Homo sapiens: one gene and its partner. The protein of the gene in region 1 binds, or shares a complex with, the protein of each later gene. Each region holds a gene or a part of one and is shown on either strand. Other genes may lie near its edges.

What was found.
Region 2: SMARCA4 (region 1) and ARID1A share a complex: the UniProt entries of both Homo sapiens proteins name them as parts of the neuron-specific chromatin remodeling complex.

What each region holds. Positions count from the first base shown.
Region 1 is NC_000019.10:11,027,006-11,034,029, forward strand, and holds part of SMARCA4 (SWI/SNF-related matrix-associated actin-dependent regulator of chromatin subfamily A member 4), read left to right. Parts: intron 1-778; coding exon 779-945; intron 946-3,724; coding exon 3,725-3,888; intron 3,889-6,284; coding exon 6,285-6,512; intron 6,513-6,761; coding exon 6,762-6,860; intron 6,861-7,024. UniProt on the Homo sapiens protein: ATPase involved in transcriptional activation and repression of select genes by chromatin remodeling (alteration of DNA-nucleosome topology).
Region 2 is NC_000001.11:26,769,015-26,776,038, forward strand, and holds part of ARID1A (AT-rich interactive domain-containing protein 1A), read left to right. Parts: intron 1-2,104; coding exon 2,105-2,312; intron 2,313-3,485; coding exon 3,486-3,618; intron 3,619-3,797; coding exon 3,798-3,973; intron 3,974-4,331; coding exon 4,332-4,482; intron 4,483-4,565; coding exon 4,566-4,703; intron 4,704-4,787; coding exon 4,788-4,884; intron 4,885-5,314; coding exon 5,315-6,206; intron 6,207-6,562; coding exon 6,563-6,693; intron 6,694-7,024. UniProt on the Homo sapiens protein: Involved in transcriptional activation and repression of select genes by chromatin remodeling (alteration of DNA-nucleosome topology).

The DNA of each region.
Region 1 (7,024 bases):
TTTGTAAGGGGCAGCCCAGACTCCTTTAAGCCCCTAATGGATGTGGATGCTGTGTCTAGATTTTCACCATTGCAAAGAACCTTGCTAAAAGCATTCTTCCAGCTAAAGCCTCCATTCAATTCCCCTGGGGTAGTAAGCCATTTGCAAGAAGAGAGGCGCCTAATGAAAACATCACAAATTCTTTTTGATGTGTTTTTTTATACTGAGTTGTGGAACAGGGTCCTGTACACCTGGCTTCAAGGCTGGGAGGCCTGGCTTGGACATGTGGTCAGCCATATCACGTCGTCCCCCTGCCAGCCTCAGTGTCCACATCTACAACACTTGGGGTTTGGCTGGAGAGAACATGAGAAGCCGAGGTGGCCCTTCCTTCTGGGTCTAGCAGAGCATGGGTGTCTCCAGTGTGGCATTTGCTCCTGGGGCTTCTTTATCGGGCAAGGGGACAAGGTCTGGCTTCCCGGAGCATCCCTGTTCCAGCCCCGTGTTGTGCCGGCCATGTGACTCACAGCTCCTCTCATTTTCATGAGTGTCTGGGTTTGACGAGAAATACATGTGCCACCCTGGTGATACGCCTCCCCAGCGAGGGTGGCCGGGCTTATTTCAGTTGGGGGAAATGGCTTTGCTGAAGCTTTGGGTGGGTGACGTCTGCTTAGGATGCATGTCTGTGCCCTTGAACCCGGCGCCTGGCCTGGAGGCGGGCGATGCACCTCCTGCCTTACCTGCCTGCAGGGTTCCAGGTTTAACATCCTGCGCCTTCTCTCCTGCCTCCTCCACACTCCAGGCTGGACCTGTACCGAGCCTCGGGTAAATTTGAGCTTCTTGATAGAATTCTTCCCAAACTCCGAGCAACCAACCACAAAGTGCTGCTGTTCTGCCAAATGACCTCCCTCATGACCATCATGGAAGATTACTTTGCGTATCGCGGCTTTAAATACCTCAGGCTTGATGGTGAGTATGAGCCAGTGAGGCGTTTCTTACAGGGTTTTGTTGTTGTGGCTGCCACAGAAGCTCCTCACTGGCATTCCCTCCTGTGAGGCAGGGTGAGGCCCAGGCGCTCTGGGTCCAGTGGCCAGAGTGGGCCTAGCCACAGGCTGAGCATCTTGGGCACTCGGCACTGGGACAGGCCGTGGATTGGACGCCGGGTGTCCTGACTCCTAGGCTGACAGTCTTTCCACGACAATGCTGGGCGCACTGGGGAAGGGGTGCCCTGTGCACTTTTAGCTGGAAGTGACAGAATTCCATACCATGTGGACACAGGAAAGAAAGCACCAATAGGCTTACATAGCTCTAACCCCAGGAGGTTAAACATCCTTCAGGCACAGCTGGATCCAGGCATGCAGGTGATATTGGAGAGACTTTTCTCCAGCTCTTTGCTCTGCCTTCTTCCATCTTGGCTTCCTTTCCACCTGCTCAGTGTCCCCAACAAAGGCAGGTCCCAGGCTGGCTCTCATTTAGCTGCTGTGAGCCGCATGCCCATCCCTGGGCCATTCGTAGCAGCCCAGTGACTGCCACCTTGCCACAGGTCAGGCCTGGACCTGGAATCAGACTCTGTGGTGAGCACGGAGGGAGGGAAGCAAGCACTGCCAGGCAGGAGCAGCAGCTGCCGTAGAGAGGCTCTCAGCCCAACCCCCTGCCCTGCGGTCCCTGATGGGAAAGGTCACCGCCTGTGTTTCTGCGCCTGCCTGCCCCAGCACACGGGAGCTCAGGGAGGAGAGGCTGTGAGATGCCGACAGGGCACGTGAGACATGTCTGTCAGTCCCAGTGGGTCAGGGAGCCCTGGAGTGAGTTCTTCGTGGGAGTTACTAGAACTGGGCTTACGAGAAACACGAGCATGAGCTGCTGAGACAGACACGGCTCAGCCAGTTTGTTGTTCCCTACACGACCTCCCAGAGCCTTTGTTGAAGCTCCTGTGCAAGGTCTGTCTCACAGCAGGACACCCCAGACCTCCATACCCCTTGTCCCGTTGATCACTTGGACCTGTGTTTGCTGGGCCAACCTGCCCAGGTGCCACCCGGAGTGTGCCCTGTGTGTCCCTCCAAACTGCAGGTCCTCCCCGGGGTTCTGTCCAGGACCACTCTACAGACACGAGTCTGTTGCAGGGGTCTCCCCGGCTTGCCTTCTTCCTTGGGGGCTTCCCACTTTCAGCTTTGAGGCTGAAAACCAAAATCCTTCAGGGTCCTCATGGCCGGGCCACCCCCCACCCTTTCCTCTCCTACGGTCTCTCCAGCGGCTTCTCCCGTCCTCGAGAGGGCCAAGGCTTCCTGAGGGCCATCCCGTCTGTGTCGTGTCCCTGACTCCCCCAGGAGAGAGCCTGGTTCCCACCCATCCCAGTGCCCTTCTGCCTACTCCATAAGGACAAGGACTTTGGTCAGTTGAACTACAGATGTGTCCTCTGCATGTGATGTGGTCATGGCCACAGGGCCAGAGAATCCATTGCGAGTAGAGGAAGGGTAGGAGCTCAGTGAAGTCTCCTGAGACTGCATCTCCCATGGGTGGGCTGGCATCTGGGAGCCGGGTGGCCCCTCACCTCAGCCCCTCCTCCGAGCTGGAGTAGCAGGGGCACATCTGGTGCCTGAGAGAGGGTGGGACGGCAGGTGGATGGCCAGGCTACTGTGGGCTTCTGCACCGTGCCTGGGCATGTGTAGGCTGGTGGCAGGAAATGGCCAGTTTTTATTTCTTCTTTTTTTTGAGACGGAGTTTCACTCTTGTTGCCCAGGCTGGAGTGCAGTGGCATGATCTCAGCTCACTGCAACCTCCGCCGCCTGGATTCAAGCGATTCTCCTGCCTCATCCTCCCTGGTATCTGGGATTACAGGCGCCCGCCACTACGCCCAGCTAATTTTCTTGTATTTTTAGTAGAGACGGGGTTTCACCATGTTGGCCAGGCTGGTCTCGAACTCCTGTCCTCAGGCGATCCACCCACCTCAGCCTCCCAAAGTGTTGGGATTACAGGCATGAGTCACCGCGCCCGGCCTGCCAGTTTTTATTTCATCACCAAAATGACTTCAGTGTTCAGGGGCACCTCTGTCCGAACTCCCAGCAGCGCAGGGAGTGTTGACATTGCCTTAATGCCCACAACGCTGAGGGCATCGTGGGTTGTCACCCAGGAGACCTGCTCTGGCTCCTTGACTTGGGTTTTCTGGGGCATGGGGACACTGATCCTGCCAGAAAGGACACGAGCCCCCTTTATAAGGTCTCCATGCTTTTACCGTAGAAGATTCTCTTTGTGAACCACAAAACTTTTTGAGACAGGGCTGAAGGCAGGTGCACCCACAGTCACTGTCCACCCACCCCCAGGTCCCTTGTGTTGCGAGCGGCGGTGTTGCCGGCATTGGCCGCTGTGTCTTCCGCTCCCCATGGAATGGCACAGGGTAGAGTAGAGGAGAGAATCCAGGGCTGTGGTGGTGGTGGCTGTGCTGACGCTGGACGCTGTGGCCTAGCTGTGGGCTGGGTGCTGGACTCTGTGCTCCAGGCCCACCTCCTCTAGTTCTCCCAGCGGGGCCTGTTTTCATTTCTGGGATGTGTGGAGAGACGTTTTGTGGTGAAACACTGGAAATCCAGTTATTCGCCAGTGGCCCACAGGCCCGTGTGGAGAGTGCGGAGCCAGGGATCTGGGGATGCTGGCAGGTGCTGATCCTGCTCCTGCTCTCAGAAGCAGGTGTTCCTTGGTGTCCCCACTCTACCCCTGAGGTCACCCCGCTGACCCTGTTCTCCTCTGTGCCCGTCAGGAACCACGAAGGCGGAGGACCGGGGCATGCTGCTGAAAACCTTCAACGAGCCCGGCTCTGAGTACTTCATCTTCCTGCTCAGCACCCGGGCTGGGGGGCTCGGCCTGAACCTCCAGTCGGCAGACACTGTGATCATTTTTGACAGCGACTGGAATCCTCACCAGGTAAAAGCGGGCCGGGCCCCAGGTCGAGGAGAAGGAAGGGGGTGCCTGCAAAACCTCGAGGAGACGGCCCTGGCTTGAGGGTCCTCCAGCCTCCTCCACATTGTCTTGGACCCCAGGAGCCGGGAGGAGCTGCACCCATATCTCCATAGGTCATCAGGGAGAAAAGAGGCGGGGTCCTCCTGTTTCCCAAAATACAAACAGCCTTTCCCTCTGATTGGGAAAGCAGTGTATAAGCCATCCGTCGGTTTGGTTTTTCTTAAATCTTGGAATGGCACCCATGAGGAGGTGGAAAGTATCCTGATCAATCTGCGCCGTCACTGTGGGGCGGCCCCTGCAGTGTGCCCTGTGAGCACACACACTGGCGCTTGTTCAGACACAATTGGGGGTAAACTCCATGCCACTTCGTTTACTTCCTCCTCTTGTTCCATAACCATGTACCCCTCATGGGCCTCGGCATCGGTGGATACCAGGTCATGCTGTTACATAGCTACAAGAATTTGAAAATGAGTTAAACTTTTCTCTGTGTTTCATTATAAGACTGATAAGTTCTTATTGTTTTTAACATGTAAACACCAGTGACAGTCAGGAGTCCCTTTTCCCTTCCTCTCCAACCGTGCTCTCTTCTGAGCCTCTGCCAGCCCATCTGCCTTCGCACATGTATGTACTGAGATTAACACAGATGCGGCGTGGCCTAGCATGTGCCTCTTCCACCAAGCAGTGGGTGTCAACCGCCGAGTGCACATCGGAAGCTACCCAGCCATCTAATCGGCCACCAGGCGTCCCGGCAGATGGCCACCCCTGGACGTCTGCTCTCAAACTCTGGTTGGCAGGCATCCGTCTTTTCTGTTGATCAGCCTGGTCACCAACCCAGCAGGGTCCCTCTTTCTCTCAGAGTGCTTGTGCAAACACCCTAGGTCTGCGCAGCCCTCAGACATGGGGTCGCTCCACCCCAGACATTGTCCTCTTCGTGTTCTGGTTGCTACTGCCAAAGTGGTTTCACTCCTACGCTGGGGTGTGAATGTACCCTGCCCTTCCCTGCAGCGTGAGGGCAGCAGCGTTCTCAGTGTGTAAATTGTCGCTTGTCTGATGGGTGAATGCCGTGGTGGTCACTGGTGGCCCCTTTTACGATCAGGCTGGGGTGTAGCTTCTGCCCAGACCCTGGTGACCAGCCAGTTTCTTAGGAGGTGGTTGAGTTGTGTGTCCCCGTTGGCAGGCCGGCAGCAGGCGGAAGCTGCACCTCAGGGCTGGGGGCGCGTTGGGGAGGGCTGGCCCTGCCAGGAAGTGTGCTGACAGGGCAGGAGGGCTGAGCGGCAGACACAAGGCACTCCTGGTCCCCACCAGCTGTGGCCTCTGCCACCCCATGGGTGCCAGTCTTAAGTTTCAGAGCATCACTGGTACTCACCCTGGTCCTGCAGCTCCTGGGCCCAGAGACAGGATTTCGTGTTAGCCTCCTCGTACTGTGCTGGGGTGATGATAAAACTAACAACCCAGGCTGGACGCAGTGGCTCACACCCGAAATCCCAACATTTTGGGAGGCCGAGGTGGGTGGATCAACTGAGGTCAGGAGTTCGAGACCAGCCTGGCCAACATGGCGAAACCCTGTCTCTACTAAAAATACAAAAATTAGCCAGGCATGGTGGTGCATGCCTGTAGCCCCAGCTACTCAGGAAGCTGAGGCAGAAAAATCGCTTGAACTTCGGGAGGCAGAGGTTGCAGTGAGCTGAGATCGCACCACTGCACTCCAGCCTGGGCGACAGAGCGAGACTTTGTCTCAAAAAAAAAAAAAAAGAAAAAAAGCCCATCCACGGCACCTGCATTGTTGGGAGCTAACTGCACCAGTCACTGGGCCACACTCCTGGTGCTTATTCACTCATTCGAGGTATGCAGTAGCCACGGGTTGGGCCCCATGTAGGCTGAGGGAGTTTTGAGGCTCACAGAGGTGAGACCTGGTTCCGGTTCTGTGTGCACTGTGAGAGTGGCAGGGCCCACAGCCAAACCAAGCACTGCCACAACACGGCCGAGCTTCGGCCCCCTGTTGTAAATGGTGCTCGACTGTGTAGGTCCACGCTGTGGGGAGCTGTGCCGCTGCCACGGGAGCTGCTTGAGAATATAATCCCCTGGGGGGTTGGTGCTTTCTTCCCGAATATCTGTGGGGTCCCAATAAGGTAGAAGGTGGCACTTCTGGAGGAACGTGATGAGAGTCCCCTTCCCCCGAGGGACACATGGCGGCCCAGGCTCCACCAGCTCTGTTTTCATGCGGCGGCAGGTCAGGCTGGGCAGAATTGTCAGGCCGAGGGTGGCACGCACAGCACACCTCTCCAGCTAGTGTCAGAGGCCACCTTCCCTTTTATGACCTCCTGGGCTCCTTTGGGACTGACTGGCACCTCTTCCCCCAGGACCTGCAAGCGCAGGACCGAGCCCACCGCATCGGGCAGCAGAACGAGGTGCGTGTGCTCCGCCTCTGCACCGTCAACAGCGTGGAGGAGAAGATCCTAGCTGCAGCCAAGTACAAGCTCAACGTGGACCAGAAGGTGATCCAGGCCGGCATGTTCGACCAGAAGTCCTCCAGCCATGAGCGGCGCGCCTTCCTGCAGGCCATCCTGGAGCACGAGGAGCAGGATGAGGTGAGCCCAGCACCGGCCCCGACCCCTCCCCAGCGTGAATGGTGGACGCGTGAGCGGCTTTCATTTTTGTTTTTTTACCTTTTTTGCACTCTTATTTTTTTTGCATCCCTTTGGAGTAAAGGGAGTGTGGGCTGAACGGAAAGAGGATGAGTACTTGCTTTTTCTTTGAAGTGGTTTTTTTTTCTAAACTGCTGGTGAAAGACGCCGGATTGACAGCCCTGGAGACTGAAGTCCTCTATTTATCCACAGAGCAGACACTGCAGCACGGGCAGCGGCAGTGCCAGCTTCGCCCACACTGCCCCTCCGCCAGCGGGCGTCAACCCCGACTTGGAGGAGCCACCTCTAAAGGTGAGAGGGGTAGTTCAGTCTCCATGCCCATTCAATCCTCGGCTTCTCGGCTGAGACGGCCAGCAAGGGCCCTGGTCCCACGGAGCGTGCGTGTGCGTGTGCGTGTGTGTGCCTTTCGCTGCCGTGTGGGTCCCCATCCACCGCAGCCGTGCCGGGACCACCAG
Region 2 (7,024 bases), on another chromosome or scaffold:
CCCTCCCCCACAAAGGAAAACAAAACAAAATAAGACACGTGCATACTGCCACATAACTGGCATGAGAAGCAAAGCCACGGAAGGCTTTTGAGGTGACTCCATGCATATTCCTGCCATTCTCCCTGATACTCAGATCTCATAGTCAAGCCTTCCCTGTCTATAGGGAAAGGGAGCATTGGGTTAGGTTTCGCTCACTTCTGATTGGGTGGGCTTCAGGGTTCACTGAACCTAGGATGAGGTACAGAGAGAATTCTAATGCCTGAGCCTGTCTTCCAGATTGGAAAAGGATGCAAACCTTTAAAATGCCGTGATTGTAACTGAACTTTTATAAAGGCAGTGATAATTCAGGGGCAAAAGAGTGCTATTTATAAGTTAGTTTGTGAAGGCTCCAAGAAAGCAAAGCTGAATCTTGAGCTTATCTAAAGGATTAGTAGGGTTTAGGTGGAAGAGTGGCCAATCCAGTAGACTGGCCTAGATGCCACGGAGATGGGAGAGAGTCTAGATATTTCCCACCAAGGCCATCTCCAACCATGAAGACTTAGCTCAGGTGTTACCCACTCTAAGAAGTATTCCTAGTCACCTCTGCCCCTCTAGGTTGTCCCCCTCTGTGCCTCTTTAAACTCTTCTTTCTAGTATCATAGGTATCATATCAGCAGACATTACAACCTATTGAACTTCCTTTGTGTATAGGGACTTGAAAACCCTTGTTCCCAGGCCTTGGGGGAACAGGCTTACCATATGGTAGATGAATAAGCATAAGAATACATGAAGAAGGAGACCTGTCCAGCTAGAGCAGAAAGACTAATTGTAGGGAGCATCTGGGGAATGGGCTTGGTCAGTGTGCCCTGAAGCTGAGGGAAGGAGGCAGAACTGTAGGTTGGCTGCTCGGGAGGTACAAAAGTCATAATAAGGCCCCGGGCCAGGCGCAGTGGCTCACACCTGTAATCCCAGCACTTTGGGAGGCCGAGACGGGCGGATCATCTGAGGTCAGGAGTTTGAGACCAGCCTGGCCAACATGGCCAAACCTTGTCTCTACTAAAAATATAAAAATCAGTGGGGTGTGGTGACAGGCACCTGTGGTCCCACTACTTGGGAGGCTAAGGCAGGAGAATCACTTGAACACGGGAGGCGGAGGTTGCAGTGAGCCGAAATGGCGTCACTACACTCGAGCCTGGGTGACAGAGTGAGACTCTGTCTCTAAATAAATAAGACCCTGAACACCCGGACCATCAGGACAGTGACTGGTAAGGGAAAGGGACCTGTGGTTATTTGTCAATGAGATATGTAGGGGAGCAGTGGCACAAGAATGTCAAATTTGCAGGGAGCCACCACCCCAAGAAAAAAATATGAGTAAATCCCAAGTTTGACAAAGCAAGTCAAGCAGGGTGGTCACTGATATTATCATGAGTCTCCATTTTATAAAATGTTAGTTTTTATTAGTGCATCTAAAATAGGATTTAGGGCCAGGCGCGGTGGCTCACGCCTGTAATCCCAACACTTTGGGAGGCTGAGGCGGGTAGATGACTTGACGCCAGGAGTTTGAGACCAGCCTGATCAACATGGTGAAACCCCGTCTCTACTAAAAATACAAAAATTAGCCAGGCGTGGTGGTGCACACCTGTAATCCCAGCTACTCGGGAGGCTGAGATAAGAGAATCGCTTGAGCCCGGGAGGCAGAGGTTACAGCGAGCCAAGATCACGCCACTGCACTCCAGCCTAGGCGACAGAGCGAGATTTATTTTTTCTGTCTCAAAAATAAATAAATAAAATAGGATTTAGATATCCAGATGATTTGTACACCACTTTTTAGCAGCGTACTAAAAAACCGGACTCTGAATTCTGTTCCAGTAGTAATGTGAAATTTGCCCTGTTGTGAATAAGCACAGTCTGATAGTTGCAGTGGAACATCCTGAGGGTAAAATGAAGCCAGCTGCAGATTTAACACTTCTTGTGGACTATCCACCAAGCAAGATTAACTTTTTCAATTACCTAAGAACTGTGGTTCTACAAAGATGAATACCTTACAGCCTGATGGGGCTTGGGGCTTATGGGCAGGAAAACCAGGCGGGAGATATACCTCGACTCCTTTGGTTTGGTTATACAGGTCAACAAGAACAAAAAATGGCGGGAACTTGCAACCAACCTCAATGTGGGCACATCAAGCAGTGCTGCCAGCTCCTTGAAAAAGCAGTATATCCAGTGTCTCTATGCCTTTGAATGCAAGATTGAACGGGGAGAAGACCCTCCCCCAGACATCTTTGCAGCTGCTGATTCCAAGAAGTCCCAGCCCAAGATCCAGCCTCCCTCTCCTGGTAAGGATGGGGTCAGCGGCCCCACCAAGGCTGAGAGGGCCTGTTGCCCTGGCCTCTTATTCAGGATATGAATAAGAGGCTTATCCAACAGGATATGCCAAGGATCTGTGCTCTGCCTTGCCCTACCACAGGGCTTAACAGGTTGGCTGACTAGAGAGTGGGCAGTGGAAACTCCCTTGGGAGGTACTCTACGGCAGCTCTTAAGTTTTAATTTTTGTTGTGCAGCTGACAACTTGCCAAATGTTTGTAAACTGGTGAATGGGAGGGGCACAAGAGGAGTCGGTGGAACTTATAAATGGCAGCAAGGCAGGGCCATCTGGGAGCTTTGGCCTATTGATGTCAGCACCTTAGAATGCAGCTCAGACTAGAGCCCTGAATTCCCCAGGGAGCTGAGATGGTAATGAATGGGAAGGAGGGAGTGGGGAAGGGTTATGAATGGAACTCCCTGATGGGAGTGGCTCTGCTCACCCTCCTTTCTGAGAGGAGGCTGAGGCCTAGGGTGAGCCTAGAGAGGGAAGAAGGCCAGGGTGCCTGGAAGGTGGGTGTAAACACATGTGCCCTGGTGTTGACCTCTGAGGGTGTAATGAGTGCCTGAGATGACTCATCAGCTGGGGAGGCCTCAGCAGTGGGATATCTACTGCTGGGAATGGTAACTATTGGAAACATTAATTACTAGTAGTTTTGTACTCATCAGCTTAGAAGAACATTTGAAGTTGAGGAGTGACACCATGCTGGATGCTTTAGAACAGGAGCTCCTAGACTCCTAAAATGCATCCCAGATTTGGGACCCCCTTCCCACCCAGGACTTGGGAGGCTCTGACTGGAGCTCATGCACCAGCATTACAGGGTTTAGTAGGTTAGACAAGGTCCTTTGGCGGAGTGAAGAGAAATAGCCAGGGAAGCTGGCAATGACTCAGGGAATCACCAGCATGGTGATGTCATGGCCACATCACTCCTCTTTTCTACACGTAAAACAAAAACAAAGAGCTACAAAACCCTCAGATTCCCGTCTTTATGACCTGGCCTTGTAGATCCTCTGCTAAGAAGGGTGATCAGGCTTTAAAGGCCTTAGGAAGAACTTTCCCAAAGAGATTCTGGGTCGTTCGTGTGTTTGTGTGAGAGTTAAACACTGTCATGCCAAGCAAACTACTCAACTTGTATCTCTGTCCACAGCGGGATCAGGATCTATGCAGGGGCCCCAGACTCCCCAGTCAACCAGCAGTTCCATGGCAGAAGGAGGAGACTTAAAGCCACCAACTCCAGCATCCACACCACACAGTCAGATCCCCCCATTGCCAGGCATGAGGTAAGGCCAAGAGCAGGGGCAGATGGTTGGGAGGATGGCTGAAGATAAGTGCATGGGAACTCCTTGCAGCCCAAGGTGGTCCTTGCCTCTGCCTTCCCAGCCAGTGACTCCTGCGTGTCCTTTGTTATATTGGAGGAATTGGTTTATTTGTGGTTTACTTGGTTTTCCTCACTCTGGAGCAGGAGCAATTCAGTTGGGATCCAGGATGCCTTTAATGATGGAAGTGACTCCACATTCCAGAAGCGGAATTCCATGACTCCAAACCCTGGGTATCAGCCCAGTATGAATACCTCTGACATGATGGGGCGCATGTCCTATGAGCCAAATAAGGATCCTTATGGCAGCATGAGGAAAGGTGACTGATCTGATTGCTATTTGAACTTGTGCTCGTAAAGACAGGGCCAGTGAAATGGGGGGAAATCTTGAGAATGGCTCAGGGTTCTTGTGGAGCCATCCTCTGAGATAATGCATTTCCTGCCCTAACTACCCCTCTTCATCCTTACCTCCTTTCTTGTCTTCTCCTTGGCTTCACCTTGTCATCCCTTAATAAGTACATGCTTTTCGCTGGTTGGGGCCTCTTTAGATCTCTGTTTTGAACTTGTCTGGAAAACAATGAGATCAAACCTGAACTCTGAAGAGGGCCTGGGTCAAAGGGTAGATTACCAGGCTTGTCAACTTACCAGTTTGTTCACCGCTTGCCTTTCTACGCTCAGCTCCAGGGAGTGATCCCTTCATGTCCTCAGGGCAGGGCCCCAACGGCGGGATGGGTGACCCCTACAGTCGTGCTGCCGGCCCTGGGCTAGGAAATGTGGCGATGGGACCACGACAGCACTATCCCTATGGAGGTCCTTATGACAGAGTGAGGTAAGCATGACCCCAGCTCCTGTCCACTCCCCCAGCACCCTGAAGCTATAGTGGGCTCAATCTGCCTCTCCAATTTTGTTTAGGACGGAGCCTGGAATAGGGCCTGAGGGAAACATGAGCACTGGGGCCCCACAGCCGAATCTCATGCCTTCCAACCCAGACTCGGGGATGTATTCTCCTAGCCGCTACCCCCCGCAGCAGCAGCAGCAGCAGCAGCAACGGTGAGTAAAGCCTGGTCTCGGTGCTGCTATGGATCAGGCTTCGCCACTGCCCACCCTAATCCTGTGTTTCTTTGCCTCCTATAGACATGATTCCTATGGCAATCAGTTCTCCACCCAAGGCACCCCTTCTGGCAGCCCCTTCCCCAGCCAGCAGACTACAATGTATCAACAGCAACAGCAGGTGAGGAGGGTAGCTGGGAATGGACTGGCATGCAGGTTCGCCTTGAAAACTAGTTAGTAAACTAATCTAACGTGTTGAAGTCTAAGAAGCTCACTTTAGATATTTTGGCATTCTTCTCTCACCTGACTGGCCAGTCCTGCCTGAAGAGCCACGTCCTCAATCTCTTCTCTATTTGGAGTTGGAAGGGGCTAGAAATAGACCTTATTTTGATTTTTAGGTTTTGTATATTTTTCTACTTAAGCAAGGGAAGGGAAGAAAGAGTGGTGGTTGCTTTTGGAAACAACTTCAAAAGACAATTTGTTAAGGTGATTCCCATGTTTTCTTGGAGTCTGTGTCCACCAAGCATCTGGTTGTAGCCATCTTGGCATCTGTGGGCTTTATGTCCCTGAGTGCAGAGTATTAACTTCCCCTCTGCTTGTCTCTGCCTTAGAATTACAAGCGGCCAATGGATGGCACATATGGCCCTCCTGCCAAGCGGCACGAAGGGGAGATGTACAGCGTGCCATACAGCACTGGGCAGGGGCAGCCTCAGCAGCAGCAGTTGCCCCCAGCCCAGCCCCAGCCTGCCAGCCAGCAACAAGCTGCCCAGCCTTCCCCTCAGCAAGATGTATACAACCAGTATGGCAATGCCTATCCTGCCACTGCCACAGCTGCTACTGAGCGCCGACCAGCAGGCGGCCCCCAGAACCAATTTCCATTCCAGTTTGGCCGAGACCGTGTCTCTGCACCCCCTGGCACCAATGCCCAGCAAAACATGCCACCACAAATGATGGGCGGCCCCATACAGGCATCAGCTGAGGTTGCTCAGCAAGGCACCATGTGGCAGGGGCGTAATGACATGACCTATAATTATGCCAACAGGCAGAGCACGGGCTCTGCCCCCCAGGGCCCCGCCTATCATGGCGTGAACCGAACAGATGAAATGCTGCACACAGATCAGAGGGCCAACCACGAAGGCTCGTGGCCTTCCCATGGCACACGCCAGCCCCCATATGGTCCCTCTGCCCCTGTGCCCCCCATGACAAGGCCCCCTCCATCTAACTACCAGCCCCCACCAAGCATGCAGAATCACATTCCTCAGGTATCCAGCCCTGCTCCCCTGCCCCGGCCAATGGAGAACCGCACCTCTCCTAGCAAGTCTCCATTCCTGCACTCTGGGATGAAAATGCAGAAGGCAGGTCCCCCAGTACCTGCCTCGCACATAGCACCTGCCCCTGTGCAGCCCCCCATGATTCGGCGGGATATCACCTTCCCACCTGGCTCTGTTGAAGCCACACAGCCTGTGTTGAAGCAGAGGAGGCGGCTCACAATGAAAGACATTGGTAAGGAGATCTTCCTCATTCGGTTGCCTAATCTGCCCCTTTCCATCTTGTCCATTGTTCCCTCCACCTTACTATTCTGGATGAGGTTGAATCTGGTCCAGTGTTGACTAAAATAGAACCAAAGAACTTTGGAAAAGGAAGAAATAAGCTAACTAAAGGTTCTCCTTCATTGCCATGCAATGAAGTCCTAGACAGACAGCTTAGAAGCCATGAGGGGCTGGTGTGTTTCATCTCCCAGACAGAAACTGCCTTCCACCTTGTGTTATCTTCAGAGTAGCTTCACTGATGGGGCAGCCCTAGGGGTGCCTCCAGCCAACCTGGGCTTGGTGGATAGACGACATGGAGGTTTATTTCAGGAACCCCGGAGGCATGGCGGGTAATGATGTCCCTCAAGTCTGGTCTCCTGGCAGAGAGCACATGGGCATTAGATACCATCAACATCCTGCTGTATGATGACAACAGCATCATGACCTTCAACCTCAGTCAGGTGAGTATCAGTGCCTGGGGAAGATTGAGAGGGTTTGGGATCTTCTTAGTGTAGACAATGGGAATGTCTCATCTTTAGCCACCTTGGTCTTTCTCTTTCTCTCTTGTAGATATCTTCCATGCCAGTACTTTGCTTCCTTTGCCTCTGGGCACGGGCCCAGGATTTTGACAGCAATAATAATTTGTTTACATGATAACCTTAACACAGGATTGACTTCAAAAGGAATTTGGGAGACACTTTGTGGTATTAGTAAGAATTCAGATTCAATCGATGCCAGTGGGGACACCACATTTTCTAGAAGAATCTGTGTTTTTTTGTTTTTTTAATAGAG